Homo sapiens: one gene and its partner. The protein of the gene in region 1 purifies or fractionates together with the protein of each later gene. This does not show direct contact. Each region holds a gene or a part of one and is shown in the gene's direction. Other genes may lie near its edges.

What was found. Proteins that work in one complex are often made in the same cells at the same time.
Region 2: the proteins of TMEM207 (region 1) and ITLN1 purify together in Homo sapiens (co-immunoprecipitation; one study listed by IntAct). This does not show direct contact.

Annotation. Positions count from the first base shown.
Region 1 is NC_000003.12:190,430,529-190,432,901, reverse strand, and holds part of TMEM207 (transmembrane protein 207 precursor), read left to right. Parts: intron 1-2,373.
Region 2 is NC_000001.11:160,876,040-160,879,110, reverse strand, and holds the end of ITLN1 (intelectin-1 precursor), read left to right. Parts: intron 1-2,294; coding exon 2,295-2,447; 3' UTR 2,448-2,571; downstream 2,572-3,071. UniProt on the Homo sapiens protein: Lectin that specifically recognizes microbial carbohydrate chains in a calcium-dependent manner.

The DNA of each region.
Region 1 (2,373 bases):
GCTTAGCTTCTCCCTGGGGCTGATCGCTTGATAATGCTGCCCTTCAACTATACAATCTCTCTGATCCCATTTCTTCTGCAGTTTCAGGGATAATCTTCCCTCTTTCTTATTTCTGGGAAAATAGAAATACTGGCATTCCAGCAGTGATTATGTATGAGTGCTCTGAGCTGGGGAGAAATAGGAGGGCTGCAGAGAGGTGAACAAGAAGCAGGGTCTTACAGGCTCTGCTCTCTTCTCCCTCCAGTCTCCCAGGATTCTTTTATTTTATGATTTTTCAGAAATGCCATTTCCCTATGTTTCATGTTCTAAGTGTAAATATTCTGTGACTTATTTTCAGTAATAAAAAAGGAAGTATTTCATTCACAGATTTTCATGGAAAGACATGATAATAGTAATGACTCATTCATTGAGCATTTCCCAGGAGCCATGCTCTGTGCTAACACTTGACATCCTTAATCTCATTTATTCTTCCTTACCACTCTATGAAGGTTCACTATCATTCTGACCACTCTACCAATGAGGGAACAAAGGCACTTAGAGATTAAGCAACATAGTAAGTAGATGGCAGAACTGTGACTCAAATTCAGTCCTTCTGGCCACTCCCATAGAAGAGAAAGGAATGAGGTAAAGGAAAGAGAAGAAACAGGTAGAAAGAACATGTAGAAAGAGGTGAAGTCTATTTGAGTGATTCTTAAAAACATAGGAAATCTCAACTCTGGCTATAAAAACTAAGCAGTAAGTGTATTGGTTTTACAAAATTAAACAGTAAACTCTGATATCTTAGAGAGCAGTTCTGTAAAAACTATAGGATTTTTGCTGGCATTTTTAATTCAGTTCTCTCAGCTTCTTAATTTGTCAAAAGATAAAAATGCCTGTCCTCCCCAGCATCCAATCACTTGATATTATATGTAAACATGCTTTGAAAAAAATTGAAAACTGATATAACACATATTTGGTTTTCAAAACTTCCTGAACACATTGGCTTAATTATGTTTACCAAATGCCTTGTGGTTTTAATAACAAGTTTAAGATCAACAGCAAAATTTGTAGGAAGAAGATAATGAGTTTTCTACGAAAGCAACTGTGAAGACTCTATTACTGGGAGCACAATATAGACAGTGGCAATCGTACAAATAAATTGGAGCTAGTACAAATAATAGATGTGTCAAGTCAGTTTGGTTGACCATTTCTAGGCAGAAAGATAGTTACCTTTGACTTTGTACTGAATACACTAGGGGCAGTTCACCAAGAAAATAGCCATCATTCATTACAAGTATTCACAATGGAGGAAATTCCTAGGGTAACTGTATTTTACCAATTTTAACTCTGATTGATCAAGTCCCGCAGACTTATCTGACATCAACCCAAACTTATAAACTGCAAAGGGCTCTAACTCCATGATACTTTTCATTTAATAACTTCTATATTATAATTAATAATAATAATGTTTAAATCATTATTTAACTATGAAAAGAGGATGGATTGAAAAATAATATTGTAAATAAAAGTAGATGCATGCATGTTCCTATCATTAGTACAGCTCTTGACATATTGTAATAATAATAGTAAACCTTGATGCATAATTCCTGTGCCAGGCCTTGTTTTAAGTACTTTATGCTCATTTAGCCTTGCTTTTATAGAGGTAGACACGAGTATTATACCCTTATTGCCTAAGAGAAAACTGAGGTAAAGAAATATTATGTAATAGCCCAAAAGTAGACTATTTAATTAAATAGATAACTCTAAGAAAAGTGCTAAACCAGAAGGTGAGACATATATACTAAACACAGCTCCACCCTTTACATACTTGACTTATTAGTCTTTGCTCTGGTACCAGTGAGATAAGAAATAAGACAAACACAACTGTATGAAAATCCATTATTCTAAATTAACATTATCTGCTTCAAAGTAATCATTTTGAGTAATCTCCGTATGGATCCTAGTGAAGCAACTAATGCCTAATATGCAACTAGTCTTTGAATTCTTTTGATCATTGTGGCATATTCTTTGGAATATTCCTAATGGCATCAAATCTTACTCCTTTAAGGAAGGTCAGCAAACTTTTTCCATTAAAGACAGGTATAAAATATTTTTGGCTTTGCAAAATATATGGTCTAGGTGGGGACTACTCACCTCTGCCATGGTAGTGCAACAGCAGCCATAGACAATATGTAAGTGTATAAATAAGATTGTGTTTCATAAATTCAATACACAAAATCAGAGGCCCGATTTAGTTCACGGGACTAGTTTCTTTTTAAAGATGAATTTTTGATGGTTGCTATTGTTTTGGCAGAAAGCAGTCAAAATCATTCAAAGGTAAGTAAAGATCCAGGTGAATACATATTCTTTACATATAAGCATTTATACATATAT
Region 2 (3,071 bases), on another chromosome or scaffold:
TTGAAGACCAAAATCAAGGGGTGAGGCTTCAAAAGAACCATTACTGGGTGTTCAGCCTTTGTGAGAAAACACTCAATCGCTTGGAGCTGGGGTGAGGCTTGTGTGCTGAAACATTGTGTAGAAGTCTTTAGAGCTGAGATTCCTTGAGAAACACAGGTGTTGTTTTCCTTCATCTGAGGTTTATATTTCAGAGAAAACCTGGACCTCCCCAACCCTAGCCATGGTTTGCCTAGATACACACTGCACTGGGGAGTTGCTGGGACAGTCCTGGACATCACCTTCTAGAAACCTCACTCAGGCCATCCTTTTTGTGGTTGAAATGTTAAGGCTCAGGAATCCTGAATGGTGGGATTGACAAATTCCAAAGATTTTAAATAGAATACCAGTTGTAATTAGTCCATTCTTTCACTGCTATAAAGAAATACTGGCCAGGCATGGTGGCTCCCGCCTGTAATCCCAGTATTTTGCGAGGCAAGGCAGGTGGATCTCTTGAGTTCAGGAGTTTGAGACCAGCCTGGGAAAAATGGCAAAACTTGTCTTTACAAAAAATACAAAAATTAGCCGAGTGTGGTGGTGCATGCCTGTGGTCTCAGCTACTTGGGAGGCTGAGGTGGGAGGATCTGCTTAAGCCTGGGAGGTGGAGGTTGCAGTGAGCCAAGATCACACCACTGCACTCCAACCTGGGTGACAGAGTGAGACCCTGTCTCAATAAAAAAAAAAAAAAAGAAAGAAAAAGAAATATCTGAGACTGGGTAATTTATAAAGAAACGAGGTTTAATTGGCTCATGGTTCTGCAGGCTGTACCGTAAGTATAGCGGCTTCGGCTTCTGGGAAAGCCTCAGGAAACTTCCAATCATGGCAGAAGGCAAAAAAGGAGTGAGGTGTCTCCCATGGCAGGAGCAGGAGCAAAGGCAGGGGAGGCGTTACACACTTTTTTTTTTTGAGACAGAGTTTTGCTCTTGTTGCCCAGGCTGAAGTGCAGTGGCACGATCTAGGCTCGCCACAACTTCTGCCTCTCAGGTTTAAGCGATTATCCTGCCTCAGCCTCCCAAGTAGCTGGGTTTACAGGCATAAGCCACCACACTGGGCTAATTTTGTAGTTTTAGTAGAGATGGGGTTTCTCCATGTTGGTCAGGCTGGTCTTGAACTCCTGACCTCAAGTGATCTACCCGCCTCAGCTTCCCATAGTGCTAGGATTACAGGCATGAACCTCCATGCCTGGCTGGTGCTGCATACTTTTAAATGTCCAGATCTCATGAGAAGTCACTCACTATCATGAGGACGGCATCAAGGAGCTGGTGGTAAAATCATTCATGTGAAACCACCCCCATGATCCAATCACCTCCCACAAGGCCCCACCCCCAACACTGGGGATTACAATTCGACATGAGATTTTGTGGGGACCCAGGTCCAAACCATGTCACCAGTTGAATACAGAGGATGGGCAAGGAAGTATAGAATAACATGGTTCTCATTTGGGTGAGGGAGTGTCATTTATGAAGTCAGAGTGTCTGGATGATGAATAGGTTCTGGGTCAATGAGGGATATAATTAACTCTATTTTGGTCATTTGGAGCTTGAGGTTCCTGTGTAGAGATCCAAGCTGGACTTTGAGGTCTTCAGCACAAGAAGCATCTCAACAGGAGATGGAGATTTTGGGGCCATCAGTGAATTTTTAGTAATTGAGGCCACAGTGGTCATGCAGTTTATAAGGGAGAGGGAGATAGGTCCTCCACTAGGGAGCAGCACTTAGAGGATTTATGAAAGAAGAGAACAGGCAGGGGCTCTGAGCATGAATATTCAGAAAAGTTGAAAGGAAGTCAAGACAATAATGTCACTAAAGCTAAAGGAAGAGAGTTTTTTTTTTTTTCTTTTGAGACAGGGTCTTACTCTGTCACCCAGGCTGCAGTACAATGGCGTGATCTAAGCTCACCGCAACCTCCACCTTCCAGGTTCAAGCAATTCTCCTGCCTCAGCCTCCTGAGTAGTGGGACTACAGGTGCTTGCCACCATACCTGGCTAATTTTTGTATTTTTTGTAGAGATGTGGTTTCACCATGTTGGCCAGGCTGGTCTCGAACCCCTGGCCTCAAGTGATCCACCCTCTTCGGCCTCCCAGACTGCTGGGATTACAGGTGTGAGCCAAGGAAGAGAGGTTTTTATGGGAAGAATAGATCAACACTGTCAATGGAGAGTCTGATGAGGACCAAAGAAATCACTGGATTCAGCTGTTAAGATGGCATTGGCCTCACTGGCAGATCTCTCATTACTGCCTCTTCCTCTCTTTGTTTCCCAGCACTGCATTGGTGGAGGAGGATACTTTCCAGAGGCCAGTCCCCAGCAGTGTGGAGATTTTTCTGGTTTTGATTGGAGTGGATATGGAACTCATGTTGGTTACAGCAGCAGCCGTGAGATAACTGAGGCAGCTGTGCTTCTATTCTATCGTTGAGAGTTTTGTGGGAGGGAACCCAGACCTCTCCTCCCAACCATGAGATCCCAAGGATGGAGAACAACTTACCCAGTAGCTAGAATGTTAATGGCAGAAGAGAAAACAATAAATCATATTGACTCAAGGCTTGGTGTTTCTGTGAATTCCTTTCCTGTAGGGGTGAAGCACTATAGGAAATTTCGAAAGCATGTGTATTGCTTTGGCTGATTGTACTTCAACTGCGTGTGTGCTTGGACTGTTAGGACTCGGGAATCCTGATAGAGAAACATGCCATCTCTACTTCCCTTTCAGATAGCCCTTAAAATAGCCAGAGGCATACAGGGCAAGGGGAAAGGAAGCATTTTATCCAAACCCTTCCTAACTCACCCACATGGACTGATCAATTTGTATCCTCAACCTGAAGACCCGAAAGGAGAAAAGCGTCCATTTTTTGGGGGGTGCCCCAAAGAAGAAGGAGATATACCCAATATCTATATCTAGTATGTTCTAACCTTAGTGACTGGGCGTTCTCCTTAGGGAAGAATGGGCTGGCATGTTGCGATGATGGTGACTCTCCTTGTGCAGTGGCTTAACCATTCCTGGGCTCCCATCTGCAGGTGCTCATTCAGAAGGAGACATGTGGCC